4 linked regions of the Homo sapiens genome follow. The protein of the gene in region 1 purifies or fractionates together with the protein of each later gene. This does not show direct contact. Each region holds a gene or a part of one and is shown in the gene's direction. Other genes may lie near its edges.

What was found.
Region 2: the proteins of ANGPTL4 (region 1) and ITIH2 purify together in Homo sapiens (affinity purification with mass spectrometry; one large-scale study listed by BioGRID and IntAct). This does not show direct contact.
Region 3: the proteins of ANGPTL4 (region 1) and C12orf43 purify together in Homo sapiens (affinity purification with mass spectrometry; one large-scale study listed by BioGRID and IntAct). This does not show direct contact.
Region 4: the proteins of ANGPTL4 (region 1) and WDR47 purify together in Homo sapiens (affinity purification with mass spectrometry; 2 studies listed by BioGRID and IntAct, with this or other methods). This does not show direct contact.

Annotation. Positions count from the first base shown.
Region 1 is NC_000019.10:8,365,670-8,373,582, forward strand, and holds part of ANGPTL4 (angiopoietin-related protein 4 isoform a precursor), read left to right. Parts: intron 1-284; coding exon 285-395; intron 396-532; coding exon 533-650; intron 651-3,549; coding exon 3,550-3,663; intron 3,664-5,386; coding exon 5,387-5,482; intron 5,483-5,571; coding exon 5,572-5,853; intron 5,854-7,913. UniProt on the Homo sapiens protein: Mediates inactivation of the lipoprotein lipase LPL, and thereby plays a role in the regulation of triglyceride clearance from the blood serum and in lipid metabolism. May also play a role in regulating glucose homeostasis and insulin sensitivity.
Region 2 is NC_000010.11:7,720,316-7,728,228, forward strand, and holds part of ITIH2 (inter-alpha-trypsin inhibitor heavy chain H2 precursor), read left to right. Parts: intron 1-540; coding exon 541-648; intron 649-1,333; coding exon 1,334-1,462; intron 1,463-3,135; coding exon 3,136-3,252; intron 3,253-6,634; coding exon 6,635-6,803; intron 6,804-7,387; coding exon 7,388-7,513; intron 7,514-7,913. UniProt on the Homo sapiens protein: May act as a carrier of hyaluronan in serum or as a binding protein between hyaluronan and other matrix protein, including those on cell surfaces in tissues to regulate the localization, synthesis and degradation of hyaluronan which are essential to cells undergoing biological processes.
Region 3 is NC_000012.12:120,999,960-121,007,623, reverse strand, and holds the end of C12orf43 (protein CUSTOS), read left to right. Parts: intron 1-1,229; coding exon 1,230-1,303; intron 1,304-2,530; coding exon 2,531-2,621; intron 2,622-3,131; coding exon of another isoform or gene 3,132-3,134; coding exon 3,135-3,471; 3' UTR 3,472-6,431; coding exon of another isoform or gene 6,432-6,559; 3' UTR 6,560-7,138; downstream 7,139-7,664. Other genes in the region: HNF1A (hepatocyte nuclear factor 1-alpha), read right to left, coding at 6,432-6,559. UniProt on the Homo sapiens protein: Plays a role in the regulation of Wnt signaling pathway during early development.
Region 4 is NC_000001.11:109,011,103-109,019,015, reverse strand, and holds part of WDR47 (WD repeat-containing protein 47), read left to right. Parts: intron 1-1,414; coding exon 1,415-1,498; intron 1,499-5,088; exon of another isoform or gene 5,089-5,090; coding exon 5,091-5,175; coding exon of another isoform or gene 5,176-5,196; intron 5,197-7,297; coding exon 7,298-7,913.

The DNA of each region.
Region 1 (7,913 bases):
AGCCAGGCATAGAGCTGCATGACTGTAGTCCCAGCTACACAGGAGGCTGAAAACAGGAGGATCGCCTGACCCCAGGAGTTGGAGGCTGCAGTGAGCTGTGACAGCACCACTGCACTCCAGCCTGGGCGAGAGAACGAGACCCCGTCATTGGGAAAAAAAAGAAAAAAGAAAGACTCCCTTGCCTGGCCTCAGCGGATGGAGATTTGGAAGGATGGATGAGTGGATGAATTAAGAGGTTGGGGTAGGCAAGCTGGGTCCTCACCAAGGTTTTCACCCCTCCCCAGACACAACTCAAGGCTCAGAACAGCAGGATCCAGCAACTCTTCCACAAGGTGGCCCAGCAGCAGCGGCACCTGGAGAAGCAGCACCTGCGAATTCAGCATCTGCAAAGCCAGGTAACCCTAGGATCAAGGGAGAAAAGGTCCCTCTGATAGCTGGACCCCAGGTTGAGAGGGAGGTGGTGAGAACTGGACGTGTGGCTGGGGACGTGGGGCCAGGCAGGACCTGACACCCTCCTCCCGTCCCATCCTAGTTTGGCCTCCTGGACCACAAGCACCTAGACCATGAGGTGGCCAAGCCTGCCCGAAGAAAGAGGCTGCCCGAGATGGCCCAGCCAGTTGACCCGGCTCACAATGTCAGCCGCCTGCACCGTGAGTGTCTGCCCCTCGATGCTCTCCGGTGGCCACCCCTACCCCGCCACTTGCCATTGCTGGTCCTCTCCTTGTCAGGTCCACCTTAAGGAGAAGATGTCCTGGCCTGGAGTCCCTGAGGGCTCACCAGTCTCTGGGTCAAAGCTGATGGGAGCACCTCCTTCCTCAGCCCTGACCTGGCCCAGCCAGGCCACCCAACCCTTCTCCTCTGCAAGCCAGTGGGCTGTCCCTGAAGCCCTGCTGATCACTGATTGGAACAGAGGTGGAGAAAGAGGTCTTGAGGGACTTGAGCTGCAGGGGTGCTGGAGAAGGTAGAAATGGGGTTCGGGGTGCCATCCTGAAGGTTAGAACCTTCTAGGGGAGGGTGTCATGGAGGAGGGGGTGCCAGGTAGTAGTGTTTGTAGATTTGGGCCCTCCACAATGTCTTGGGGTATGTGGGAATTAGGGCTGGGAACCCCCAGCTCCCAGACCAGAAACACTCTTGTATCTTACAAATCCAATGCTCCAGGTCCCTGACCCCTCTTCCTCCTTCCTCTCTTGTTCTCCTCCTCCCTCCCCGCCCCCGCCGGCCCCCTCCCCACCGCAGAAAGTGGGCTTTTGCTGCCACCACAAGTTGTAGGTGCTTTATTCCCAAATCTCCGTTCATCTCGAACCACAGCATGTCCACGTGTGTCCGATGCAGACTCGCGGTTCTCTAAGTTCACGGCCCCACACGGTTTCTCTGTGGTCCTCATCCTTCCCTGCATCTGTGGCTGTCCACAGCCAACTGGGTGAAAGTTTGGATCCCCCTCTCACACCCTAGGGTCAGTGGCAGGCTTCCAGCACTGTAGACCTGAGGGTTCTCTCCTCCCCAAGCTCCCGCTCCTTCCCACCTCCGTGCTGCCCGCCCCCAACCCCGCCAGGCTAGCATCTCAGCGTGGTCAGGGTCCTGTCCACCCTCCCAAAGCCACCATCCCAGGATGAGGGGCTTCTGGAGGGTGACGGGGGAAGGCACAAGTCCTGGCTGGGAAATGCGGTGGAAGGGGGCAGGGGTTCTGTGGGTTCGGGACTCCCAGACTCTTGGCTCAGGCCCGCCAAGTAGGAGAAAGTTCAGAGCTGGGAAGGCGAACAGCTGGCATTCATGGAAGCCACACTGGTGGTTTGGCCGCGTGCCCATCCTTACTGGATGGGAGGAAAGTAGGGGAAAGGGGAGATGCCTGAGGGGCCGGAAAGCGTCTTCCTGGTCACTCTGGGCCCGCCCCCACCCCCACCGTGCAGACTCATTTCGACCTTTCCCCTACTTTTCCGGCTGGGCTGGGGGCGGTTCCTCCCAGTCTGGAGCGTCTGAGCCTCCAGACGTGCTCAACGCCATCCTCCCCTCCTCCCTCCCTCTTTCTTTCCTCAACCCTGCCTCCTCTCCCTCTAGGAGCTGGGACCCCAGGCAGAGCCTCTGAGATGCTCCTGCTCAGCACAGTTCTTCCCGTTCTGGACCTGCTGCCTCATTCATTCATTCATTCATTCATTTGTCAAGACTGTTTTGTTTGCTTTTTGAGACGGAGTCTCGCTCTGTTGTCCAGGCTGGAGTGCAGTGGCGCAATCTCAGCTCACTGCAACCTCTGCCTCCCACTGGGTTCAAGTGATTCTCCTGCCTCAGCCTCTCAAGTAGATGGGATTATAGGCGCCTACCGCCACCACGCCCAGCTAATTTTTATTCATTTATCAAGTCTTTTTTTTTTTTGAGACAGAGTCTCACTCTGTCACCCAGGTTGGAGTGCAATGGTTCAACCTCAGCTGACTGCAACCTCTGCCTCCCGGGTTCAAGTGATTCTCCTGCCTCTGCCTCCTAAGGAGCTGGGATTACTGGCGTCCACCATCACACCCAGCTAATCTTTGTATGTTTTACTAGAGATGGGGTTTGGCCATGTTGACCAGGCTGGTCTCAAACTCCTGACCGATCCGCCCGCCTCCCAAAGTGCTGGATTACAGGCATGAACCACTGCGCCCGGCCCATTCCTCAAGTCTTTATTGAGCAGCTGCTATGCGCTGGGGCCTGCGTGGATGCTGGTGCCAGGCTGTGGGCAGAGCTGCTCCTTGTCCCCAGCCTCATGGAGCCTCCATTGAGTCAGAGGAGAGACCATTAGATGACCTCAGTGTCCAGGAGTGGGAAGTCCTTGCTCAATTCCCATTTGGGGTGTTCTGGCCTGGTCTGGGGGTGAGGCAAGGCAGGGTGTCCTTCCAGAAGCTGGGACCCAGAGAGAGAAGTGAGGAAAGAGAGTCCCGCCGGGCGCAGTGGTTCACACCTGTAATCCCAGCACTTTGGGAGGCCAAGGCTGGCGGATCACGAGGTCAGGAGATCGAGACCAGTCTGGCCAACATGGTGAAACCCCCGTCTCTACAAATAATGCAAAAACTAGTCGGGCGTGGTGGCACATGCCTGTAGTCCCAGCTGCTCCGGAGGCTGCGGCAGAATTGCTTGAACCTGGGAGGCGGAGGTTGCAGTGAGCCAAGATTGCGCCACTGCACTCCAGCCTGGCGACAGAGCGAGACTCCGTATCAAAAAACAAAACAAAAAAAGAGAGTCCCAGGCAGGGGGAACAGCATGTGCAAAGTCCCTGTGGCAGGACGGTGTGTGGTACAAGGGTGGGAAGAAAGCCTGTGTGCCAGAGAGGGTGTGGGTACAGCATGGCAGGAGGAGGATGGGCACGGGGGCTGGTCCTCCAGGTGCCTTGTGGACCATGCTGAGGAAGGACATAGGGAGCCATGGAAGAGGTTAGGCAGATGGCAGAGAGGTGGTCATGAGATAAGATTTGCCTTTTACTTCCCTGGTCATCCACTGTTAAGCCCCCAGATATGCCTGGCTCCTGAGACCCCCCCCAGGGGCTGCCCTCCTGTTTCAAGTCTCCACTTTATCTCCCTTCAGGGCTGCCCAGGGATTGCCAGGAGCTGTTCCAGGTTGGGGAGAGGCAGAGTGGACTATTTGAAATCCAGCCTCAGGGGTCTCCGCCATTTTTGGTGAACTGCAAGATGACCTCAGGTAGGGTGTGTTAGTCCACCAGGGGCCCCTCTCCCCATAGGCCCTGTTGTCTTTCTTTAAATTGAAAACAAAACAAAACAAAAAAATTAAAGGCAGGGTCTTGCTATGTTGCCCAAGCTGGTCTTTTTTTTTTTTTTTTTTTTTGAGATGGAGTTTTGCTCTTGGAGCTGGAGTGCAATGCCACGATCTCAGCTCACTGAAACCTCCGCCTCCCGGGTTCAAGCAATTCTCCAGCGTCAGCCTCCCCAGTAGCTGAGACTACAGGTGCGAGCAACCACACCCAGCTAATTTTTGTATTTTTAGTAGAGACTGGGTTTCACCATGTTGGTCTGGCTGGTCTCAAACTCCTGACCTCAAATGATTTGCCGACTTTGGCCTCCCAAAATGCTGGGATTATAGGCATTAGCCACTGCTCCTGGCCTCTTTTCTTTAAAATGCAGCCCTTGTCTGGGTGTAGTGGCTCATATCTGTAATCCCGACACTTTGGGAGGCCTATCATGAGGATCACTTGAGCCCAGAAGTTCGAGACCAGCCTGGACAACATAGTGAGAGCTCATCTTTACAAAAAATTTTGTAAAAGTAAAAAAAAAGGCCAAGTGCAGTGGCTCACACCTGTAATCCCAGCACTTTGGGAGGTTGAGGCAGACAGATCACGAGGTCAGGAGTTCGAGACCAGCCTGACCAACATGGTGAAACCCCGTCTCTACTAAAAATACAAAAATTAGCCGGGCATGGTGGTGTGCACCTGTAATCCCAGCTACTCAGGTGGCTGAGGCAGGAGAATCTCTTGAACCTGGGAGGCAGAGGTTGCAGTGAGCTGAGATGACGCCACCGCACTCCAGCCTGGGCGACAGAGCGAGACTCCGTCCCCCCATCAAAAAAATAAAAAAGAGAAAATAAAATAAAATAAAATAAAATTCAGCCCTTGCTGGGCATGGTGGCACATGCCTGTAGTCCCAGCTACTCGGGAGGCCAAGGCAGGAGGGTCACTTCAGCCCAGGAGTTAAAGGCTGCCGTGAGCCGTGATCACACCTGTGAATAGCCACCGCACTCCAACCTGGGCAACACAACAAAACCTCGTTTCTAAAAAAAAACAAAGGCTGAGCACGGTGGCTTACACCTGAAATGCCAGCACTTTGGGAGGCTGAGGCGGGCAAATCACTTGAGGTCAGAAGTTCAAGACCAGCCTGGCCAACATGGTGAAACCCTATCTCTACCAACATAAACATTAGCCGGGCGTGCCTGTGATTCCAGCTGCTTGTGGGGCTGAAGCACAAGAATCGCTTGAGCCCCGAAGGCAGAGGTTGCAGTGAGCTGAGATTGCGGCACTGCGATCCAGCCTGGGCAACAGAGTGAGACTCCATCTCTAAAAAAAAAAAAAAAAAAAAAGAAAGCTTTTTTTTCCACTGAGAAGTCCTTTCCATTACAAGAGGTTACAACACGGGGTTTTACCCAGTTCAGCTGGCCCAGAGAGGCTTTGCAGATTTCCACTGCCTACTCCCTCCCACACTCAGTCCCTGCTGGGTTCTTGGGACAAAGATCTTCCCAAGGCCAGCCCATAATATTCCTCCCTCTGACCCACCCTCCTCGAGTCCTCCAGGGATGAGTGAGGGAGCTGCTGTCTTCCTGGGTTTGGAGGGGGTTTGGTGCTTGGCAGCCAGATGAGGGAGTGGGGTCGTCTGTGAAGAGGGACTTCCTGGTGACCTTGTACCTTTCTGGGCAGATGGAGGCTGGACAGTAATTCAGAGGCGCCACGATGGCTCAGTGGACTTCAACCGGCCCTGGGAAGCCTACAAGGCGGGGTTTGGGGATCCCCACGGTAGGTGTTTCTAGTGGGGACAGAGGCAGGGGAGGAAGAGGGACCCTCAGAAGTGGCCCTGCCTCATGGAGTGGCCTCTCCCACTCCAGGCGAGTTCTGGCTGGGTCTGGAGAAGGTGCATAGCATCACGGGGGACCGCAACAGCCGCCTGGCCGTGCAGCTGCGGGACTGGGATGGCAACGCCGAGTTGCTGCAGTTCTCCGTGCACCTGGGTGGCGAGGACACGGCCTATAGCCTGCAGCTCACTGCACCCGTGGCCGGCCAGCTGGGCGCCACCACCGTCCCACCCAGCGGCCTCTCCGTACCCTTCTCCACTTGGGACCAGGATCACGACCTCCGCAGGGACAAGAACTGCGCCAAGAGCCTCTCTGGTGAGCAGGCCCTGCCATGCCACACCCAGCCAGCAGCTTCCCTCCTTATCTTTCTGCTGCTCTGTCCTGCCTTCAACCCCACATTGCATCTGTTTCCTGCCCCCACCTCTTCCTTACATGCCGTGTGTGTGATTGGGCCACTAACTTAGCCTATCTGGCCTCAGTTTTCCCATCCTGAAAAGGGTCTTGACCGTCTTTACTTTTATTTACTTATGTGTTTGTTTATTTATTTATTTATGTATTTATTTTTTGAGACGGAGTCTCACTTTGTCACCCAGGCTGGAGTGCTTTGTGGCACGATCTTGGCTCACTGCAAGCTCCACCTCCTGAGTTCACACCATTCTCCTGCCTCAGCCTCCCGAGTAGCTGGGACTATAGGTGCCCACCACCACGCCTGGCTAATTTTTTTGTATTTTTAGTAGAGATGGGGTTTCACCGTGTTAGCCAGGATGGTCTCGATCTCCTGACCTCGTGATCTGCCTGCCTCAGCCTCCCAAAGTGCTGGGATTACAGGCGTGAGCCACCGCGCCCGGCCTACTTATTTATTTTTTGAGACAGAGTCCCGCTGTGTCTCCCAGGCTGGAGTGCAAGTGACGTGATCTTGGCTCACTGCAGCCTCCGCCTCCTGGGTTCAAGTGATTCTCCTGCCTCAGCCTCCTGAGTAGCTGGGATTACAGGTTCCCGCCACCATGCACAGATAATTGTTTTGTATTTTTAGTAGAGACGGGGTTTCACCATGTTGGCCAGGGTGGTCTTGAACTCCTGACCTCAAGTGATCTGCCCACCTCGGCCTCCCAAAGTGTTGGGATTACAGGCGTGAGCCACAATACCCGGCCACAAACATCTTTATAATGGTGCTCCACAGGATTCTTTTTTTTTTTTTTTTTTTGAAACAGGGTCTCACTCTGTTGCCTAAGCTGGAGTGCAGTGGTGCGATCTCGGCTCACTGCAACCTCCACCTCCCGGGTTCAAGCAATTCTCAAAAAAAAAAAAAAATTAGGCACGGTGGCTCACACTTGCAATCCCAGCACTTTGGGAGGCTGAAGCGAGTGGATCACTTGAGCCCAGGAGACCAATCTGAGCAACAGGGCGAAATCCTGTCTCAATTAAAAATACAAAAAACTAGCTGGGCATGGTGGTGCCTGCCTGTGTTCCCATCTACTTGGGAGGCTGAGTTGGGAGGATCTCTTGAGCCTAGGAGATAAGGCTGCAGTGAGCTGAGACTGCGCCACTGCACTCAAGCCTGGGTGACAGAGTGAGACCCCTGCCTCAAAAGAAAAAGAAAAAATGCAGGCATGGTGGCTCACACCTGTGGTCCCAGCTACTTGGGAGGCCCAGGTACAAGAATCACTTGAGCCCGTAAGGTTGACGCTGCATTGAGCCATCACCACACCACTGCACTCCAGCCTGGGCAATGGAGCCAGGCCCTGTCTCAAAAAAAATTGTTTTTAAACTTAAAAATAAGGCCGGGTGTGGGGGCTCACACCTGTAATCCCAGCACTTTGGGAGGCCGAGGTGGGTGGATCACCTGAGGTCAGGAGTTCAAAACTAGCCTGGCCAACATGGTGAAACCCTGTCTCTACTAAAAATACAAAAATTAGGCCAGGCGCAGTGGGTCATACCTGTAATCCCAGCACTTTGGGAGGCTGAGGAGGGTGGATCACATGAGGTAAGGAGTTTGAGACCAACCTGGCCAACATGGTGAAACCCCCTCACTACTAAAAATACAAAAACTAGCCAGGCGTGGTGGCGGGTGCCTGTAATCCCGGCTACTCAGGAGGCTGAGGCATGAGAATCCCTTGAACCTGGGAGGCAGAGGTGCAGTGAGCCGAGATTGTGCCACTGCACTCCAGCCTGGGAGATAGAGTGAGACTCAGTCTCAAAAAAAAAGACCAAAAATTAGCCAGGTGTGGTGGCAGGCGCCTGTAATCCCAGCTACTCGGGAGGCTGAGGGAGGAGAATCACTTAAACCTGAGAGACGGAGGTTGCAGTGAGCTGAGATCGCACCACTGCACTCCAGCCTGGGTGACAGAGTAAGACTCAATCTCAAAAAAAAAAAA
Region 2 (7,913 bases), on another chromosome or scaffold:
TATAAACAAACAAATCATAGAATTAAATTTAAAAAAGAAAAAAATGGCAGCTATGACTGTGGTTTGGTCAAGAATCACCAAAGGGGATTTCCCTAGATGAGGTCTGTTCAAAGCAAGAAGACAGAGAAGAAATAAAACAACCCAAGATTTGGGGAAAATGGTCTACTTTTGACAGGTCTACAGAGTAGATGCAGTGCTATTTAACAATGAGGGAAAAAGAAGAAGGAATTCTTTTTTTCCCTAACAATGCAAATGCTCTTATAAATAAAAAGACTCGAATAGAATGAGGAAGGGAGTCGACTCCTGGGGGAGTGAGGCAGCAGAAGGAGAGCTCTGAGTCGACAGAAGGGGGTTAAGCCTCCGTGGTGAGATGAATCCCATCGCAGGAACTTGCAGATCCTGCAGGAGAGATCGTGGAGTCGTGCCCGGGAAACCTGCGGAGGAGAAAAGCATCAGAGGACTTATTTGTAATTTTACTTCTTGCTTAAAAAGACTTTAAAGACTTTTAATGCTTTGGGTAATTTTCTCTTGCATCTCTAGGTAGATGTGTGGGTTATCGAACCACAGGGACTGAGATTTCTTCATGTTCCCGACACATTTGAAGGCCATTTCGATGGTGTTCCGGTCATTTCTAAAGGACAACAGAAGGTACCCTGAGCCCTGTGTGTTGCCAGGCATTCACAGGGCCTCTGGATTGTGGGTTCTGTTCTCCTTCTGTGCTCTGGAGAAGAGAAAAGCAGGCTGGTGTTGAGGACACTGTTGAAGAAATGGGGATCCCCAAGTAGAGCCTAGGGCCTCCCCAGGATACACAGAACAACACTCCCAGTGCTTTCCTTCCATTTTGACCAGAGATTGTCCCTTTTTGAGTCTCATTTCCCCGTCAGTCACCTGCTTAACCAGTAGCTAAAGGACAGCTTTCACATCCTATATGGCAGATTTTCATTCATTAACCATAGCAAGACATGTTCAGCTCTCTGCCTCAATGACCAGCGATAACCAACTATGACTCCTGTAAGGAGAAACTCCTCTAAGAGCATTAAAACATTTCACAAACTCTTTCCAAAGCACATAGTCAGCCCTTCTACAGGGGATGAAGGAAATTCTTCGGCTTTCTTCTAAAAAGGTCTGAAACCTTGCAAACAGCATGGCAGGCTAGAGATGCTCCCTGCAAAAGCCCTGGCATGTCCTTCCCATCAGTAATGGGTCCACCGATATCGCGGGGATTCAGAACGTCCATTGGGCAGCTCCTCTTCCCTGTGTGCTGGAGAAGGGGCAGCGCCAAGCACTGGGAAGGGGCTAGAGGCAGAGGCTCTGATGTCACCGTTCTTTCTAGGCGCACGTCTCCTTCAAGCCCACGGTAGCACAGCAGAGAATATGCCCTAACTGCCGGGAGACTGCGGTAGATGGGGAACTGGTGGTGCTGTATGACGTGAAAAGAGAAGAGAAGGCTGGTGAACTGGAGGTGAGTGCACACCGGCTCTGGTTCTACTGCCAAGCTCGTGCCAAAGAGCTGCTCCTTTTTGAACAAACTCCCAGGCCTATGGGTGGTTTCTAGCTGCCAGGGCAAGTGTTTCTAGCTGCAGAGAAGGGACTAAAATCATATTCTTTGAATATACCGCTAAGCATTATCTTTTATGTATTAAAAACTAAATGAATAGGGTCTCATGCTCTTGTCCCAGGAGGGCATTCCTGGGCCTCATGTGAAGAACAAAGGAATAATTACAGAACAGGAATTTTAAATAGGCTCCCAAGGCCCTTTGCAATTAGACAATCAAAGAAAGCACAGAGATTACGGGGTGAGGAGGAAGGCGCATCCACAGCCTAGAAAGATCAAGAGCCAGCGGTGAATTTCAAGGCCAAGGTTTATCATGAAGTTTCTTGAAAAGTTTCCTTTCCCCTTCAGTCATGTCCCAGACGTGTGTCTTCCTTTCTTTGTACTAAGGTGAGGACTCTTAGAACGTACGCAAACTCCAAGAGTCTCTCTAGGGACAGCAAGCGGAGCACACACCCTGTACCTGGATGCTGTAGTTTCCTGGAAAGAGGCAGCCAAAGGGCAGAGGAAAGAGAATTAGGTGAGCCAGTCATCAAGCCTGCAGCAGAAGACAAAGAGGATGGTCAGGAGTCCAGCTGGGGCAGCCTCTCATTAACTTCAAGAAAAATCCAAATTTTCTAAAGTGGCCCATACACGTCCTTCGTGATCTGTCTTGCTGATTCTCCAACTAGTTCCCTGAATTCTTGGATTCTACGGCCCCATCTTGCTGAACCACATATGGAGCCCCAAATATGCCATGTTTTCTCATCTCTGGGGCTGCGCTGTCTGGAACTCTCTTCCCCATTCCCCACTATCTCAACCTGGCCCAGCTCTCAAGAGAGCTTCTGAGTCTGAGCTCATCCTTAGGTCCCAGTGGAGATGCTGCTTCCTAGAGAACCGTCCCCTGGGTGCGCGTTAGATGCACACGGGGCTCTTGCCGAGCCCTTTACTTCCTAATCATGGTGTTGAACACACCGCGCTGCACATTGCCTCCACTTACCCTTATCCTCTGCTGGCTGGGAGCCTCCTGACGGGAGGTGCTCTGCCTGATTCACCGCTGGTTAGCAGGGCGCCTGGAACAGGGGCTCTCTGTAAAGACTGAGTGATGTGGAGTGGAGTGGAGTGGAGTGAAGTGGCGTGGAGTGGAGTGGCGTGAAGTCGGGTGGAGTGGAGTGGCGTGCAGTGGAGTGGGGTGAAGTGAAGTGGCATGGAGTGGAGTGGAGCAGCGTGGCGTGGAGTGGAGTAGAGTGGAGTGGCGTGGTGTGGTGTGGAGCGGAGTGCCCTGGCATGGCGTGGAGTGGCGTGGCGTGGAGTGGTGTGACGTGGAGTGGAGTGGCATGGTGTGGAGAGGAGTCAAGTGGAGTGGAGCGGTGTGGAGTGAAGCAGCGTGGAGTGGAGTGGAGCGGAATGTTCTGCTAGGAAGGTCTTGACCCTCAGAGGAGAGGAGGTGGGGGAGCAGGCAGGAAAATGTGGAGGCAAATGCACATCAAGCTCCGCCTCCTCCTCCCTGTAGACCCCTCTCTTCTCTGAGTCCCCAGGTCCCCATCTTCCTACCTTCTAAACACGAATCATGATTTGACTCACAAATACCTTCTATTTTTCAGGTGTTTAATGGATATTTTGTCCACTTCTTTGCTCCTGACAACCTGGACCCAATTCCCAAAAACATCCTCTTTGTCATCGATGTGAGTGGCTCCATGTGGGGAGTTAAAATGAAACAAGTAAGTACCCCCTTGTTTGCAGTGGTTGGGGGGATTCCCTATCTTCTTTGATCCCCTCCTAAAAATGCAATCATTCTATCCCTCCTCCCTGCTTAGGGCTGAAGCTCAGGGACTGTGGTTACAGACTGCCGGTGTCAACTCTTCCTAAAATTTTGCTATTATTGCATTTCACAGGACATACACCTCCGTCTTCTAATCATTCCTCTAGTGTAAAATTCCCTTCCTTCTCTTCTTCCTCTTTCCTGTTTCCTCTTCCTTCTCTTTCTCTTTTCCACTCTCTATCCAATATTTCCTTGAAAAACTGTCTCAAAACTCACCTCTTTGAAAAACAGAATCTCTATATAACCTCTTCTTTCAAGGATCAGTCACATTCTTTTTGCTCTTCCACATGTTTTATTATAATATCTTGTCATTGTCCACATATGACTATTGATTCAATATATACATATTATTTCTAATTATATGGTAATTGCTTGAGAGCAGCTATCCATCTTATGTTTTCCAGCTCAGAGCTCAATATAGGCTTACTTAGTGATAAGTGAGATGTACAGATGCAATACTAAAGACCAAACAAGGAAATGATTTAACTTACCCATCAATCCATCCATCCATTCAACCAAGTTGAACAACCAACTAACCAGTCATAGGGCAACTATTTTTGACCACCCAAGAGTTCACTACTACCCTAAGATCTGTAAGGAACCTAAAAGAAGTCCCTGTCAGCCAGGCACAGTGGCTCACGCCTGTAATCCCAGTACTTTGGGAGGCCAAGGCAGGTGGATCACCTGAGGTTGGGAGTTTGAGACCAGCCTGACCAACATGGAGAAACCCTGTCTCTACTAAAAATACAAAATTAGCCAGGCGTGGTGGTGCATGCCTGTAATCCCAGCTACTCGGGAGGCTGAGGCAGGAGAATTGCTTGAACCCAGGAAGCGGGAGTTGCAGCGAGCAGAGATCGCGCCATTGCACTCCAGCCTGGGCAACAAGAGCGAAACTCCATCTCAAAAAAAAAAAAAAAAAGAAGAGGAAGAAGACGAAGACGAAGAAGAGGAAAAAGAAGACCCTGTCTTTCACAGACCCTGCCTGCCTGGGTCTGTACTCCCAGGCAGGGTTTCTCAGCAGTGGGACTATTGATATTTTGGATGGGGTCATTCCTTGTTGTAGGAGGGCTGTCTGGTGCATTGCAGGATACTTAGCAGCATGGTCTATGGTCTATTTGCTAAATTTTGGTAGCACAACCTCCCCTGCATCATAACAATCAAATATAACGTCAGACATTGCCAAATGTCCGCTGGGGGGAATAATTGCCTCTGGTTGAGAAACATTGCTCTAATACAACAGTTTATTCACTGCTTCCTTCCTTCCATCACTCATTCATTTAACAAATATTTACGAAGCACCTACTATGTGTCATACACTTAGTTCATCTATGAGCAAAACAGACCCAAAGCATAAAAACAGAAACCAAACAAAAAACAGAAAAAAAACGGATGCCTACCCTCTGTGTGCTTATGAAACTTACATCTGAGGGATAGGGGACAGAGAATAAACAATACACATGCAAGTACAAATGTACAAGTACGTTCAATGGCAGCATTTTGATAAAAGTTTTTTTAAAAAATAAAAGAAGCATATGTTAAAAACCAAGAGTGGCAATTGCAGGGGTATGCAATTTTAAATAGGCTTGTCATCTAAATAGGTGGTTTCCTGGAGAAGACCTCTGAGGAGACCCTGAGAAGGTGAAGGGAGAGTTGTGCAGATATCTAAGGGAATTAAATGCAATGAACAGCTCATGCAACAGTTCTAAGTCGAAAGTGTGCAAAGAACAGAGAGAGATGCCAGTAGAGAGGGGCAGTGGGAGATGAGATCTGAGAAGTGAGAGGCAAGGTGGCTCATGGAACACCTGTGCAGTCATGATCAGAGCTGGATTCTGGAATCTGTTTTGAAGGTAGAGTAAACAGTATATCCTGAAGGGCTAGCTGTGAGGCAAGGGAAGAAAAGAGAAGTGAAAGATGCCCCAGGACTTAGCCTGAGTGACTAGAAGGATGAAGTGGCCATCCATGAGTTGACAAAGACAGAAATGTAATCAGACATTGCAGGGAATGTCCCAGTTTGGTTTTGGATGCAAAGTCTGAGATTTCTATTAAGTACCCACGTTGGCCATGGAAGCGTGGTGTTCAAAAGTGAGATGTGGAGACACACAGTTAGGACTCCCCAGCATATAGAAGGTACTGTCAGCATTGGGACTAGGTGAGAATGCCGAGGAGTAGATGGACAAGGGAGCCAAGATCAGACAACAGAGCATTCCAATATTGGGAATTTGGGAAGAAGAGGATAATTGGTGATAGAGACTAATAAAAACAATTAGTAAGTGGGGGAGAAAAATCAAGAGAGAATGAGGCCCTGGAAGACAATTGAGGAATTTGTGTTCAGGAGGGAGATGAGAGCACTTGCCGGTGCATGAGAAATGAAGATGGACCTTTGGATTTAGTGACATTAGCATCATTGGTGACCTTGACAAGGGCAGTTTCAGTAGAGTGACAGGGATGAAAACCCGAAAGGATTGGGCTTATGAGAGAATAGGAAGAGAAGATTTGGAGACAGTGTGTTTAGACAATTCCTCAAGGAATTTTATTGCAGAAGAAAGCTGAGAAATGAAGAAAGTGGATGCACATGAGGTTTGTAGAAGGGTGAGAAATAACATGTTTTTGTTGATGGAAATGTACCAATAGAATAGGGAAATTGAAGAGGCAAAGGACAATTGCTGGAGCCATGATCTTTAGTCAAAGAGAGGGAATGAAATAGTTCATGAATAGATGGGTTTGCATTAGGTAGAAATACTGCTAGTTGTTCTTTATTATCAGGTAGGAAAGAAAAATGTATGGGTACAAATATTGATGGTTGGGATTTTATGGTAGTGGGAGTCTGTGGGAATGTTCTTCTGTCTGCTGCAGTTTCTCAGTGGAGTTGGAATCAAAATCATCACACGTAAGCTAGAGAAAGAGGGTGATGGTGGTGGTTTAAAGAGAAAGATGAGGAAATAGTTTAAGAGACTGGGTGAGTAGATGGACTTGAGAAATGTATTTTATTTTCAGGCATCATAAAGGTGGCACTCGAAGTTTGTGATCCTTAACATAAAGACTAGTCAAACTGGTTGTGCATAGCAAAATAGATAGTAAAATTATCAAAAAGCCAACAGTACATGCCCAGAATAAATAAGGGGCAGGTCTGCATTGACTGAGGTGGGCTCAAGAGGTTTTCTGGAAGAAGTTTAGCTTGAGAAGAACTTGAAAGATGACCAGGATCAATGATTGGTCTTCCTAGTTCCTCTGAGGCTCAGATTTTCTGTAATGGGACCTGTCTTTATTCTCTATTGAAATAGACTGTGGAAGCAATGAAGACCATATTGGATGACCTCAGAGCAGAAGACCATTTCTCTGTGATTGATTTCAACCAGAACATTCGAACTTGGAGAAATGATTTAATTTCAGCTACAAAAACACAGGTTGCAGATGCCAAGAGGTATATTGAGAAAATCCAGCCCAGTGGAGGTGAGTGTGTTGGGCTAAATCCCAAGGAGACACTTCCTCTGGGTTCAAATCATGATTCACTTAAGAAGCATTATTCCCATCACAGTGGTCTTTCCCCAGCATTCGAGGGCCTATCTTAAATAATACATTTATTGGTAATGGATGAATGCTAAGTTTGTAGTGAAAGTAGAATTTGTAATACAGCCCACATAAGCTTTGAACCGTTTTAATGTCTCTCAGAAAAAGGTTCAGTGACACTGGCCTTCTTTATTGCCTGCATAAAGCATAAAATGTTACTATCTTCAGAGTATCTTGGCAAGGCTGATTTGGATACTTTAATCTGGTGTTTAACAAGCTAACAGTCTGTGCTTTGAAAGGGCTAGTTCATCTCTAAGGGGATAGTTTATTTCAAAGTGAATATTTCACTGCACTGGGGGACCACCAGCTTGAGCACAGTTTGTGTCACTCAGAAAGCAATGAAATGATTTTGGCATGGAATAAGTGATGGATAAGTGATCAGCCGACATATGAGTCTGAATCCAGAATGGGATTTTCTGCGTGTGGCGAGAACGCATACCCAACGTTTCATTATGCTACTTCAACAGGCACAAACATCAACGAAGCACTCCTACGGGCAATCTTCATTTTGAATGAAGCCAATAACTTGGGACTGTTAGACCCCAACTCCGTCTCGCTGATCATTTTGGTTTCTGATGGAGATCCAACAGTGGGCAAGTGTCACTTCAACCTTCTCACGACAAACACTTTCACTGTTGTTTCTTGGAATGGTGGTTTGCCTAAAAGGGGAACTCTAATGGCATTTGCCTGAGTTTCTAGAACATTTTAAACCCATGCTTCCTAAAGGAGGTCTTCTGATCCTGCAGCCCTCACCCCTTAAGCTACTGCTCAGACACTTTCAGCAAGGGCGCTCTTGAATGCCTCAGTTCCACCTCCACAATATGCAGAAATCTGAGTCTGAATTTTAATAGTATGTTGTGAGGATTGCTGATGCATTCTAGGGAAATGCATCTATTTCCTCAACTTGAGGTATGTGAAGATGGTGTATGGGGGTGGTGAATGATGAGTATTGATCCCAGATCTCCCAGCAGTACCTTTGGAGGCCACAGTAGC
Region 3 (7,664 bases), on another chromosome or scaffold:
TGTGAAGGCTGAAGCTTTTCTTGATGACAGTCATCATCTGCATCGTCATCATAGCTACCATTTGCTGAGCAGCTACTTGTGGCTAGGCCGTGTGCCACAAGTGCTTGATATCCATTTTCCCCTTCAATCCTTGTGACAACCTTAAGAGGTAGGGACCTTCATCGTTCCCACTGCACAGGTGGATAACAGAGACTCAGAGAGATAAAGTCATTTGCTTAAGGGACATAGCTAATAAGTGACAAAACCGGGATTCAAAACCCAGGTCTCTGAAGTCTGAATGAGGTCCATGAATTGGATCAATTTGCATTTCCTAGTTGTGATGTTGTACTATAGCGAGGCACAATGTTACCATTGCGAGAAAATGGATGGAGGGTCTATGGAACATCTGCATTATTTGTTGCTACTGCATGTCTACAATTATCTCCAATTTCTTTTAATTAAAAAAAAAAATTTAAAAACAGGTCTGCCCTGCTCCAGAAGCTGTCCTCTGAACCAGTTTTCTAGATTGGTCATATTTCCCTTTTCATGCTTGCTGCTAGGAAGCTCAGAGCAAAATGTATGCCCTCTCTCTAACAAGTGTATAGGACTTCCTGACTACACTTCTAGGTCTTTCTGTTCCTCTTGCCCTTATATCTCTTTGTCCTATTTGAAATTGCATTCATTTTGTTAAATTCTTTTCTTTTTTTGGAGATGGAGTCTTGCTCTGTCACCCAGGCTGGAGTGCAGTGGCGCAGTCTCAGTTCACTGCAAGCTCCGCCTCCCAGGTTCACGCCATTCTCCTGCCTCAGCCTCCCGAGTAGCTGGGACTACAGGCGCCCGCCACCATGCCCGGCTAATTTTTTGTATTTTTAGTAGAGATGGGGTTTCACCGTGTTAGCCAGAATGGTCTCGATCTCCTGGCCTCATGATCTGCCTGCCTTGGCCTCCCAAAGTGCTAGGATTACAGGCGTGAGCCACCATGCCTGGCCTCATCTTGTTTTACTATGTCTTTAAAACTTCTTCAACACTTACTGGAATAAAGTGGGCTTTAAAGAAATGAAGCACTGCAGTTCGCGTGGCAGAGGCTGGTCAGCATGTTATAACCAGACCATCAGCCCTCTTACTAGGCCAGCACGCTTTCGCTTTTGCATTTACAATCACATACCCCATCCCCTCCACTTGAAAAAGAATTTTGTTTTTGTCGTTATCCAAAAATCTCATCTTAAATCAACCGTCTCGTCTCCCTGTAGCTTCATTACCATCTCAGAAGCAGCAAAGGAGCCAGCAAAAGCTAAGGTACAGAAAGTCGCTTTGGAGGATGATGGTGAGTGGTTATACTTAATAGAAGCTATCATTTATTAAGCACCTAATGTGTGTCTGGAGGTGGGCGAAACAGTTTTGGTATATTCTTTTTTTTTTTTCTTTTTTTGAGATAGGAACTCTCTCTGCCACCTAGGCTGGAGTGCAGTGGAGCAATTATAGCTCAATGCAGCCTCAACCTCCCGGACCCAAGCAGTCCTCCCACCTCAGCTTCCTGAGTAGCTGGGACCACAGACACACACCACCACCCCTGGCTAATTATTTATGTTTTTTAGAGACAGGATCTCGCTATGTTGCCCAGGCTGGTCTTGAACTCCTGGCCTCAAGCCATCTGCCCACCTTAGCCTTCCAAAGTTCTGGGACTACAGGCGTGCACCACCACACCTGGCTAATTTTTGTATTTTTTTTTAGAGACAGGGTTCTGTCATGTTGCCCAGGCTGGTCTTAAACTCCTGGCCTCAAGCTATCCTCCCGCCTCAGACTACCAAAGTACTGGGGTTACAGGCATGGGCCACCTCACCATTCTTTCATCTGCTCAGCCCCTGTGGTGAGGCAGGTATTATGATTGAACCCCATGTACAGACAAGGAGACTGAGGCCCTGAGAAACGAAGTCATTTGCCTGAGGCGGCCTCGTCTGTGTCACCCTGAGCAGGAGCACTTTACTGCTGCCCTCCACAGCCTCGCCCATCTGCGTCTGTCCTGTACCAACACATTTGCCACTTTGAAGGCTGCCTTAGGTCAGGAGCTCAAGTGCTGACTTCCAGAAGCCTCTGAGGGCTTGCTGAGCTGATGTGGCTGCTGGCTCCTGCTCCAGCGCGCCCTCCACTGGCTCCATCAGGCATCAGCATGACCCTTGGCAGATGCAGAATCACTTTGTAGTTAGACGACTGATTCCTGGGTCTTTGCCTCTGGACCAGGAGCTCCTGAGGGCAGAGGCGGGGCAGCTTCAGCACCTGGCACCTGGGAGGAGGGGCTGGCATCTGGGGGTGCTGACTCTGCTCCTTTGTTTTTTTTGTTTGTTTGCTTGGTTGGGTTTTTTTGTTATTGTTTCTTTTTTAAATTTTTTTATTTTGTGTCTTCTTAAAATTTTTTTTTTGTTTCTCTTTATCTTTTCTTTCTTTCGTTTTCCTTTTTAAAATTTTTTTCTTTTTTGTTTCTTTATTTTTTATTTTTTTATGTTTCTTTTTGTTTTGTTTTGTTTTTGTTTGACTCTGCCCCATTGAATCTTAGGTTTCCGCCTTTTCTTCACATCTGTCCCTGGAGGCCGTGAGAAGGAAGAGTCTCCCCAACCCCGCCGAAAGCGACAGCCCTCCAGCTCCAGGTGAGAACTCACACCTCTCCTCACGTCCCCTCCTTTTTTCTCCTCTTCTGTCTTGGTGGGTTCCCTGGAATAGCCAAGCAGACTCCAGTCAGGACCAGGCCAAGGCAGTGGCCCTGTCAGGCAGCTGGAGAAATCATGAGCTCAGCGGGAGGGAAAGCCCTCTTGGCGGCAGCTTTGGATGTTTACTGCTTTTGAGCACCTGTCTTGGGCCAGACACCTCACTTGATCATAGTTGCCTCCTGGGACATCCCTGGGAGGCCTGGACTCTGTTAAGATCCCCGTTTTAGAGATGATACAGTCAGAGAGGTTAAGTCACTTAAGGAGGTCACAAGGCTGCTACGCCCAGAAGCCAGTATTGGAAGCCAGGTTGGCCTCACTCCCAAGCCTGAACTCACTACCTGCCTCTCTCTGCGGCCACCTTCTGGTGACCTGGACCAAGGGAGGACAGCGAGAGGCAGCTCTGGGGCTGTGTCCTGACTCCAGCTAACCCAGGGTACCCTCTCGTTGCAGCAGTGAGGACAGTGACGAGGAGTGGCGGCGGTGCCGGGAGGCAGCTGTGTCGGCGTCCGACATCCTACAGGAGTCAGCCATCCACAGCCCTGGAACAGTGGAGAAGGAGGCAAAGAAGAAAAGGAAGTTGAAAAAGAAAGCCAAGAAGGTGGCCAGTGTCGACTCGGCTGTCGCTGCCACCACCCCCACCAGCATGGCCACAGTCCAGAAGCAGAAGTCAGGTGAGCTCAACGGGGACCAGGTGTCGCTTGGGACCAAAAAGAAGAAAAAGGCAAAGAAGGCCAGCGAGACCTCTCCATTCCCACCAGCAAAGAGTGCTACAGCTATACCTGCAAACTGAACCCAGCCATGGGCACAGGGCTCAGCCAGCTCCAAGGACAAGGTGTCCCCCCCACCCTGGGGACAAGGCATTTCCAAGCCCCACCTCCCTCTCCAAGTTCAAGGACTGGGCTGGCAAACCCAGACTGCCCATGAGACCCTGATGGTGATGAAGGCTTGCTCGAGAGTTGGGCCAAAAAAGTGGCTGTAGGGTGAGAAGACCAATCAAGGCCTGCCCCTCTGTGCTCCCACGGAGGGCTGGCGGGGGCGCTGTGGTTCCAGAACATTTCATGACCTCAGGAAAAAAGGAACCTTCCAGTTATTTGAGACTAGTGGCCAAGTGGTGAAACCTCCATCTCCCTAGAACTGTCTGAGGTGGGCAGGGGAAGGGAGACCTTCCCCACCACCTCCTTAGCCTGGTGTGAGAAACAGTTTTTAGAAAATGAGAGAAGGGATCCCCAAGAGGCCAAGGCCCAGAGAAACTTTTGTTCTTCTCTCCTTAGCCCACATAGACTTCACAGAATCGTCTGAGAAAGGAGAGCTTTTTCACCCCTGGCTTTCTAGAATTTTCTTTGTCTGCATTTGTGAATATACCACACATGATGGTGTCTCTGAGCCGACCAGATTATGGAAACTCAATTGTCAGAGGACCCAAAACAAAACTTAGAGTGATTTGGATATTGCCTCTCTGTCAATGCTGAACCTTAAGACATTTTAAGTAAACATCCTCCTCCTCTCTACACCCCCAGGATTTGTGCGTTCACCCCACCCAAGACTTCAGGAAGTGTCATAGCACTCGTGGACTAGGTTTCATGGGACAAAGGCATTCTGCAAGAAGTAGAAGCTTGTGGCCGGGTGCAGTGGCTCATGCCTGTAATCCAAGCATTTTGAGAGGCCAAGGAGGTGGATCAATTGAGGCCAGGAGTTTGAGACCAGCCTGGCCAACATGGCGAGACCCCATCTCTACTAAAAATACAAAAATTAGCTGAGCATGTTGACACACGCCCGTAATCCCAGCTACTCAGGAGGCTGAGGTGGGAGAATCGCTTGAACCCAGGAGGTGCAGGTTGCAGTGAGCCGAGATTGCGCCACTGCACTCTAGCCTAAGCAATGGAGCAAGACCCTATCTCAAAAAAAAAAAAAGAAAAAGAAAAAGAAAAGAAGTAGAAGCTCATGGCCAGGGATGGTGGCTCACACCTGTAATCCCAGCACTTTGGGAGGCCGAGGCAGGTGGATCACTTGAGCCGAGTTCCAGACCAGCCTAGGCAACATGGTGAAACCTCGTCTCTATAAAAAAAAGAATACAAAAATTAGTTGGGCATGGTAGTGAGCGCCTGTGAGGCTGCTTGTGAGGCTGAGGTGGGAGGATCCCTTTAGTCCAGGAGTTCAAGGCTGCAGTGAGCTGTATAATGCCACTGCAGTCCAGCCTGGGTGACAGTGAGACCCTGTCTCCAAAACAAAATTTTTTTAAAAAGTAGAAGCTTGAGGTTAAGATGAAATCTGGCTTTGTCATTAGAGTCTCAGCAGAGCAAGAAAAGCAGAGATGTGGGGTGTGAGAGCGTGGGTGCTGGAGCCTGTCTCCTCTTCGCAGGCCTCTGGCCTGCCCCAGCCTCCCGCTACCTGCCCAAACCCCATCTGAATGATTTGTGGACAAGCAAGAAGTTTCCACCGCATTTCTCCTTGACTTTACTAAAAGTTAAATAAACGTGCCACTCGCCCCGGCTGGCTACAAGCTGCAGGGGGTGCCGGGTCACCCCAGGCCTTTTCCTGAATCCCAGGGTAGACGCGGTACACTGAAGGCCAGGTTCTCAGCAGCAGGCCCAGGGATGTGGGACCATGCTTGTCCTGGGTTCACAGGCTCCTTTGTCCCTCCTGGCAGTGCTCAGGACCTCAGACTCCTCAGGGTGGCTGCGAACTGCCCTCAGCCAGCCAGGCCCCCAGGCTTCTGAGTGTTAGTCCTGTCCACACAGGTAGCTCCTGTGCCCTGGGGTCACCTCTTTCTTCTCCTGGGCACCTCAGCTTGGCCAGTTCCCCGGCCCTGCTCAGCTGCTCGGGCCTTGCTGCCTTGTGAGCTCAGCTACTCCTGCCCCAAACAAGGGCAGGGTCTGCAGGGCGCTCGAGACAGAGGAGCTGCCCCACCAGGACCTGGACTTGGCACGGGTTGCGAGGCTCCCACAGGAGTAAGGACGACTTCCCAGCCCCGAAGTAGCCTTCCCAGTAGAGGCAGGAGGCCAGGCTGGCCTCAGAGGCATGATGCTCTTGGGAACAAATACAGGAAAGCTGGAGGTCATGGGGCCTGGGAGAGGGAATCGCTGGGGATGGGAAGCCAGGAGAGCCCTGCCTGCCTTCCCTGTTAGCTTCGGCCTCCCTGGGCTCAGGCGTTAGAGCCCCAGGCTCTGGCACAGAGTAGCCACCCAGGAAATGCCTGTGTGAGTAGGTGATGGGGTCAGTACAAATGGCATGTGGGTCACTAGCTGGAAGGAGTTGGGGCAGGAAGGAGTGGCCCGGTGGGTACATTGGTGACAGAACAAGGCCACGCTGATCCAGGGCCTCTCAGAGCTCAGCAGGTCACAGCTACACAGGCCTGTGTCCTGAGAAGTGTGGCTGCCAGAGTGGTGTAGCGGTCCCAGGGCTCTCCATAGGCCCAGGCTGGGGGTGCCCAAGTCATAGGCCGCCCCCTTCAGTTCCAAGTAAGAAGACTGTATCCCACGAAGCAGCGACAGTCCCTCCTACATCTGCCATGAACAGGCTTTGCTCCTAGCTCTCCACGACCCCCTCCTGTGCACCCCGAGCAGCCTCCACGGGTTGGGGCGCCTCAGAGCCCTCCCTTTCTGATGCATCAGAGCAGAGTGGGGAGCGAGGCACAGCTGTCCAGGAAGGGCCACGGTTGCTCGGCAGGCTCAGGTCCTCCAGGCAGGGCTGGCTGCTGCCCTCATCACCCCCCAAGCAGGCAGTACAGGCCCCAGGGCCCAGGTGCCGTGGTTACTGGGAGGAAGAGGCCATCTGGGTGGAGATGAAGGTCTCGATGACGCTGTGGTTGGATGGCAGCAGGTGGCTCTGGCCATTGCTGGAGTCTGAGCTCTGGTACAGCACCAGGCTGCTGGAGGACACTGCAGAGGCAAACAAGGCTGCTAGCCACCCACCAGGCACCCACACCCACCCCACCTGCCTGTCCCTAGGGGTACTCAGGATGGGGAGGCAGGGCCACACCTCCTGGATCACAGCAGATAACAGGAACCCCAAAGTCACACCTCTACCCTCGGTTCTTCAAAGGGAGCCTCCCAGCCAGGGTCCACGGCCGCCCATGGAGTGGCCTGAGTACATCTTAGTGTGAACACTGGAGAAGCCCCGGTGAGATGCCGAGGTAGGTAGTTGTACGTGTTGGCTTGGCTAGGCTGAGTCAAACACTAATCTAGGCGCTGCTGTGAATGCAGGTGCTTTGTAGATGTGGTTAATGCCACAATCAGTTGGCTTTGAGTGAAGGAGATTACCCTGAAAATATGGGTGGGCCTCCTACATCAGTGGAAGGCCGTAAGAGCAAAAACCGGTTTCCCAGAGAAGGAATTCTGCCTCAAGGCTGCAGAATTCACTCCCCAGAGCTGCCAGCAACAGATTTCAGGCCTGCCAGCCCCCCGCAGACACGGGCCAAGTCCTTCAAATAAATCTGTTGGTTCTGTGTTCCTGGAGAACCCTGACTGATGGCAATGGTTAAGAGAATGGGCTTTGAGGTGGGACCTGGGTTCGAGTCCTGGCCCTGCCATCTGGTAGCTGTGGGAGATGAGGCAAGTCCCTCCCCTCCTTGAGTGTCCACTTTCTCATCTGTAAAATGGGGGTGGTCATGGACACGCCTCATGGGGTGAATGCCAGGACACAGAATGGCCTCAGTGGCTGTCATGACAGCTGCCAGGGCCGGGTCCAGGAACCTTATAGAAAGGGGGCAGCTTGCAAAAAGGCAGGCTGCAAAGCCCACCCACCTGACTCCAAAGTGCCCACTCCTGACAATGGCATCATAGATTACAAACTCAGGTGACCGCCCCACCGCCAGGGGTCATTGGAGCCGATGTGAGTGGATGCAGTGAGGCCTGGTGCACTGTTATATGGGAATATGAATTTTTCCAATTTTCCAAAAGATGCCAGAAATCTGGATTTCTATGTGAAAATTCCTGATTTTGAAATGTTGGCAACAAATTCAAAGAATGTTCAACCCTGAGCCAA
Region 4 (7,913 bases), on another chromosome or scaffold:
GTCACTGCAGCCATGACCTTCTTGACTCAAGCGATTATCCCACCTCAGCCTTCTGAATAGCTGGGACTACAGGCATGTACCACCATGCCCAGCTAATTTTTAAATTTTTTGTAGAGATGGGGTTTTGCATGTTGCCCAGGCTAGTCTTGAACTGCTGGGCTCAAATGATCACCTGTTCTTTCTTTTTTGTGTGTGTTTTTTTGAGACAGGGTCTCACTCTGTTGCCCAGGCTGGAGTGCAGTGGCACAATCTCAGCTCACTGCAGCCTTGACATCTGGGCTCAAGTGATCCTCCCACCTCAGCCTCCCGAGTAGCTGGGACCACAGGCATGCACAACCATGCCTGGCTAATTTTTGTATTTTTTGTAGAGCCAGGGTTTCGCCATGTTTCCCAGGCTGGTTTCGAACTCCTGAGCTCGAGTGAATTGCTTACCTTAGCTTCCTAAAGTGCTGGGACCACAGACATGAGCCACTGCGCCCAGCCACTTGTTCTTAAAATAATATATAATAGCTTTAAAACTGTAAGATGAATATGGAAATATAGGAACTTTAAAGCTTAGTCCATTTTTTTTTTTTTTTTGAGACAGAGTCTCTCTTTTGTTGCCCAGGCTAGAGTGCAGTGGCGTGATCTTGGCTCACTGCAACCTCTGCCGCCCAGGTTCAAGCTTCTCCTGCCAGTAGCTGGGATTACGGGCGCCCGCCACCACGGCCAGCTAATTTTCGTACTTTTAGTAGAGACGGGGTTTCGCCATGTTGGGCAGGGTGGTCTCAAACTCCTGACCTCAGGTGATCTGCCCACCTTGGCCTCCCAAAGTGCTGGGATTACAGGTGTGAGCCACCACGCCTGGCATGTCCAATGTTTTTACATAGGTCAAAACCCACATATATATAGTTAGTATGAGTGGTTGCAGATTCACAAATTCTTCTCATACAGTGTATGTTGTTACAAATAAGTTATGAAAAATTTAGGCCAGGTGAGGTGACTCACGCTTGTAATCCCAGCACTTTGAGAGGCTGAGGTGGGTGGATCACCTGAGGTCAGGAGCTTGAGACCAGCCTGGCCAACATGGTGAAACCCTGTATCTACTAAAAATAGAAAAGAATTAGTGGGGCTTAGTGGTGCGAGCCTATAGTCCCAGCTTCTCGGGTGTCTGAGGCAGGAGAATCGCTTGAACACAGGAGTCAGAGGGTGCAGTGAGCCGAGATTGTGCCATTGCACTCCAGCCTGGGCAACAGAGCGACACTCTGTCTCAAAAAAAAAAAAAATTATGAAAAATTTATTTGAGGAATCAAATAAAATGTTAATCTCATTGTGTGCTTTATGAAGTTTGAATGCTGTTTTGTCATCTGTTCTGCTTTTAATTAGTATAACCTGAATTTGGTGACATGCTGGTTTTTTTAAATTTTTTATTTAGGCAGCTAATACTTGATGGTCAATGGGATGAAGTTCTTCAGTTCATTCAGCCTCTAGAATGTATGGAAAAATTTGACAAAAAAAGGTAAGATTTTATCTAAAGTTTTTAGTGTCTCATCATTGGTAGAAGCTTAGCAAAACAATGAACAAAAATTTTCATTTTCATTTTTCTTTCTCCACTGGCCTTGAACAGAGAGTAAACAAATTGATCTCTCTCTGTCACCCAAGCTGGAGTGTGGTGGCATGATCACAGCTCACTGCAGCCTTGGTCTCCTGGGCTCAAGCAATCCTCCCACTTCAGCCTCTCAAGTAGCTGGGACTATACAGGCGTGTACCATCAGCCTAGCTAATTTTGTATTTTTTTTAGAGTTAGGGTTTCACCATGTTGCCCAGGCTTCCCTTGTGTTCATTTGGATTATTTTAAGTTGATTTAATGTTCACTGACCCTTTCTTTTGCTATTAGCAATCTGTTGATAAATTGTGAATTTTTAAAAACAGGTTCTTGTTCTACCACCAGGCTGATGTGCAGTGGCATGTATGTGGCACTGCAGCTTCAAATTCAACAGTGAATTTTTCATTTTGAATATTGTGCTTTTCATTTTCAAATTCGTATAATTTTTTTGTAAGATTTTTCCATCTGTTCATTCATTATGATTATATTTTTCTTTAGGTCCTTCAACATACTGAGAGTAGCTGCTTGTTTGCTAGTGTAGTCCTTGTTTGGTAATTTGGACTTGTGCTTGCTTATATCAGGCTCAGTTTCTAATGATTGCCTTTTCTCCTAACTGGGAGTCACTTTTTGTTTTTTTTTTTAACTATATCTAATTATTTTGTAAATGTAATCTGCACATTTCAGCTTCACTCTTGAGGCTCTGAATTCTGTTCTCTTCCTACATAAAAAGTTTGATTTTCATACAGGCAGTTATTTAACTTAGGTAGCCTCAAAATGCAAACTCTTTCTCCCCTCTTGTGGATACCAGAGATTTGTCCCGAAATCTCTGCTCAGTTCTTTGGCCTTTCATCTGTTTTCTCCAGGCTCCTTGGAGTCTCCCTTGCATCTTCACAGTTTAGGGGATAGCCAGGGATATGGGTACCTAAGTTTATACAGTAGATTTTGGTATGTTTCCTACTGTGACGTCGTCCTTTTTTTGGATCTTCCTCTCATTTTTTAGCTGCTCTGGCAGTACCAAACTTTTTTTTTGAGACAGGGTCTCATTCTGTTGCCCAGGCTGGAGTGCAGTGGTGTGAACACAGCTCACTGTAGCCTTACCTCCTGGGCTCAAGTGATTTGCCTGCTTCAGACTCCTGTGTGGCTGGGACTGCAGGCGTGTGCCACCCCGCTAGGCTAATTTTTAAATTTTTTGTAGAGACCAGGTCTGACTTTGTTGCCCAGGCTGGTCTCGAACTTCTGGGCTCAAATAATCCTCTTGCCTTGGCCTCTCAAAGTGCTAGGATTACAAGTATGAGCCACTTTGTTCAGTCAGTACCAGACTTTTCAAGCTACAGCCTTCTGTTTGAGTTCTAGCTCACACTGTGTGAACTGGGGAGTGCCCTCAGCTGGAAAGCCTTATGCTGTTGAATATAACCCCTTAAATTTCTGGGTTTTTTTTTTTTTTTTTTGAGATGGAGTCTCACTCTGTCACCCAGGCTGGAATGCAGTGGTGCGATCTTGGCTCACTGCAACCTCTGCTTCCCAGGTTCAAGCGATTCTCCTGCCTCAGCCTCCCGAGCAGCTGGGACTACAGGCATGCACCACTGTGCCTAGCTAATTTTTGTATTGTTAGAAATGGGGTTTCACCATGTTGGTCAGGCTGGTCTCGAGCTCCTGACCTCGTGATCCACCCACCTTGGCCTCCCAAAGTGCTGGGATTACAGGCTTGAGCCAACGCACCTGGCAAATTTCTCTTTTTTTAAGGATTGACTTCCCTCTAGTTGTGCCAGCTTTTCAAATGCATTCAAAATAGTCATTTTTTGAGGCCAGGCGTGGTGGCTCACGCCTGTAATCCCAGCACTTTGGGAGGCCGAGGCAGGCGGATCACTTGAGGTCAGGAGTTGGAGACCAGCCTGGCCAACATGGCGAAATCCTGTCTCTACTGAAAATACAAAAAAAAATTGGCTGGATGTGGTGGCACATGCCTGTAATCCCAGCTACTTGGGAGGCTGAGGTAGGAGAATCACTTGAAACTGGGAGGCAGGGGTTGCAGTGAGCCGAGATCGTGCCACTGCACTCCAGCCTGGGCGACAGAGCAGGACTCTGTCTCAATCAGTCAATCAATAAACAAACAAATAAATAAAATCACCTTTTTTTGGTATTTTATGTAAGATTTATTGTTGTTATATGCAGAAATGTTAGCCAGATATAAGTTACTCTATCACTATCAGAAGTTGAACCTGTTGTTATTTTTTGATTTGCTATTCAGACCATGCTGCTTGATATTTCTTTGCGTTTGTACATTCTTTACTTACCTGGAATATTAATCCCTTCACCATCTCCTGCCTTTACCTGGTACACTTCTGATTGTCTTCTGAGAGTCAGTTGTTATGTCTTTTTTTTGTTAACTTTCCACCTCTTTTGTACAATTGGTTTCATACTTTTTTGAGGCCTTGCTGAACTCTGAATATTTCATATAATTTATTAGGTGACCCTCTTTTTGAAGGCAGGGATTTTGTTTTATTGGACACAATTTGCTACTACAACAGTGGCTGAAAGAATGACTGAAGGTTCATTATTTTTTTCTTTCCAGACTTGGAAACACTTTTTCTATAAATTGCTTCAGGCAATAAAGCTTTTGATTCTTAGACAGGTTAGGTAGACTCTTTGCTATCCCTTCCCCTCTGAAAAACTCTTGTTAAAAAGCTTTAAATTGGGACCAGGTGCAGTGGCTCATACTTGTAATCCAAGCACTTTGGGAGGCTGAGGCAGGAGAATTGCTTGAAGCCAGGAATTTGAGATCAGTCTGAGCAACAAAGTGAGACCCGGTCTCTACAAAACAATTTTAAAAATTGGCCGGGTGCTGTGGCACACAGTTGTAGTCCTAGCTGCTTGGGAGGCTGAGGCAGGAGGATTGCTTGGGCCAAAGTTTGAGGCTGTAGTGAGCTGTGATCATGCCACTGTACTCCAGCTTGGGTGACAGAGCAGAAGACTCTGTCTCTAAAAAAAAAAAAGAAAAGGAAAAAAGCTTTAAGTCTCTAGTTATTTTGTAGTGTTTTAGAAATGTTCATTTTCTCCTACCCTTTCAGCCCCATTTTTTATTAGACTTTTCTCATATTTAAAAAGAAAATATTTGATTTAATCTTTCTACAATGTATATGTATTTAAAAATGTAACATACCCCATAAATATATACTATTATTTGTTAAAATTTTTTTAATAAAAAACAGGATGTAAGGTAAACAAAACATTTTGGATATAAGACTTGATTTAATATTAGGTAACATTTGATATCTTCCATAAAAATTGGATTGTTGTTTACAATTAATATTGGAAGTATAAATTCATTCTCTGAGTGTTAAATTGTGATTACTTGTGACTGAACTTCAGTTATGGCTTCAATGTGATAAGAAGCCTAGTAAATTATTTGAATAATTTTCCTAAAGCAAAAGTACTTACATAGTAACTTCTAAGTATATTTGACATCAGACATTGGAAAAATTAATGCTTCATTTTTTTCCCACAGGTTTCGTTATATTATCCTGAAGCAGAAGTTTTTAGAAGCTTTATGTGTTAACAACGCGATGTCAGCAGAAGATGAGCCCCAGCATGTAAGATTTTTATTCCTGAAGGTTTGCGCCCTAGTCTTGTTTTCAGTCATAAGTATTTTAGTCACTAAAACGAAGGATTAGCATCACAAGTTTTCAGAGTTTTTATGAGCTGGGATGGGGCAAGATCTGGTGTTTTCCAGGTGTAGTATTTTCATTCTGTAGCGCTTCTAAACTTGTTCCATGGTTTAAGCCAAGATATATAAATAGCTGGCTAGTTGAAGAGTGTGTGCATCTCTCTTGTTTAAGGTAAGTCAGCAATAGATAAAGTTTGACTTGATGACTCTTCATCATTTCTTCTTTTTTTTAAATCCCGGAAGTGGGTTGGTTATATTTATGTCCTTTTTCTCTGTCTTTTCTGTATTGTCTTTGATCCAGAGATAGTTTTTTTTTTGCTGAAATGTTTGTCTTCATGACTATTTAAATTTAATGAAATTAAATTCATTTTGATTAGTAAAGTGACTTTTAAAGATTCAGTGTAATACTAAAACCGAGAAAACTTGTATTAAGTTCTGGTAATTGTTAACTGAAGTAAAGTGTCTTAGTCCATTTGACCTGCTATAACAAAATATCATAAACTAGGGGGCTAGTAAACAATAGAAGTTTATTTCTTACAGTTCTGGTAGCTGGAAAGTCCAAGATCAAGGTACCAGCAGATTCATTGCCTGGTGAGGGCCTGTGCTCTGGTTCATGGATGGTGCCTTCTAGCTGTGTTTTCAGCTGGTTAAAGAGGCTAGCTAGCTCTCTGGGGTCTCTTATATGGGCACTAATCTAATTCACGAGGGCTGAGCATTTATGACCTAGTCACCTCCCAAAGGCCCTACTTTTCCAATACCATTACCTTGCGGGGTTAGGATTTCAACATAGGAATTTTAGGGAGGCACAAACATTCAGACTGAGGCAAAAACCAAAGGATTTTACAGTGGGGACTTTCAGATACAGATATATTTGCCAGATAATGATGTTCAAAAGTGAAAAGAACACTGGAACATGAGTTAGGAGACCTATTTTTTATTCCGTCTTTGCCACTAATCAACTGAATTACCTTGGTAAATGTGTACCCTGACTTTTCCCATATGTAAGATATGGTGGCTAGACTAGGTGAGTGCTGAAGTTCCTTACATCATTAAAAGCTTATGATTCAAAGACAATATTCACTATACAAATTATTATAATTTGTCTCTCAGCTAAGCTTCCATTTTGGTCTGTCTGGATTGTTTTGTAGTAAGTCAACTTTAGGCATTCCCTTTCTGTTTTTTTTTTTTTTTTTTGAGATGGAGTCTCACACTGTCACCCAGGCTGGAGTGCAGTGGTGCGATCTCAGCTCACTGTAACCTCTGCCTCCTGGGTTCAAGCAATTCTCCTGCCTCAGCCTCTCAAGTAGCTGGGATTACAGGTGCCCGCCACTGTGCCTGGCTAATTTTTTGTATTTTTATTAGAGACGGGGTTTCACTGTGTTGGCCAGGCTGGTCTCGAACCTCATGATCTGCCCACCTTGGCCTACCAAAGTGCTGGGATTACAGGTGTGAGCCACTGTGCTCGGCTCCCTTTTCTTGACTTTCTATCTCCACACAATTTTGCTCTAAGGTAAGTTTGGACTAACAGAGTGGCTCTTTTGCCTTTTGGGTAAGCTGGAATAATAGCAAAGTTTATAAACAATTGAACATTGGCATGCTTCAATTTTCATTTCTAGAAAAAAAATTCTTACCGTTAAAAAATTATATATTTGAGAGCTGGGCACAGTGTGGCACACCTGTGGTCCCAGCTACTTTAGAGGCTGGGGATCACTTGAGCCCAAGAGTTCAAGGCTGTAGTGCACTATATTTGTGTGTATGAATAACCCCTGCACTCCAGCGTGGGCAGCAGAGTGAGATCCTGTCTTATGCCTGAATTATAATAGAACAGTGTTTTTATAGATAAAAGTTTAATGTACTAATAAACCAAGTTTATTATTTTTATTTTAGTTGTGAAAACATTATGTTCCTATCTTGAAAGCTGTTGCATATCCTACAAATTATATGAGTATTCTGTGGCAATATAATTTATTCTTTGTACTCTTGTCGTTTTCATATTTCATAGCATGTTTTTTATAGTGATTATTTGATCATTTATATTTTTCTTACAGCTGGAATTTACCATGCAAGAAGCTGTGCAATGTTTACATGCTCTAGAAGAATACTGTCCTTCTAAAGATGACTATAGTAAGCTCTGTTTGCTTTTGACTTTGCCTCGTCTGACCAATCATGCCGAGTTTAAGGACTGGAATCCCAGCACCGCACGAGTTCACTGTTTTGAAGAGGCTTGTGTCATGGTTGCAGAATTCATCCCTGCTGATAGGAAGCTAAGTGAAGCTGGTTTTAAGGCTAGTAACAATCGTTTATTTCAGCTTGTAATGAAAGGCCTGCTTTATGAATGCTGTGTAGAATTTTGTCAGAGTAAAGCAACTGGAGAAGAAATTACAGAAAGCGAAGTGCTTCTTGGCATCGACCTCTTATGTGGTAATGGTTGTGATGATTTGGATCTGAGTTTACTGTCATGGCTTCAGAATCTTCCATCTTCTGTCTTCTCTTGTGCTTTTGAACAGAAAATGCTTAATATTCATGTTGACAAACTTCTGAAACCTACAAAAGCTGCATATGCTGATCTTTTGACTCCTCTTATCAGCAAACTCTCTCCCTATCCATCATCCCCAATGAGAAGACCTCAATCAGCTGATGCCTATATGACCCGCTCTCTGAATC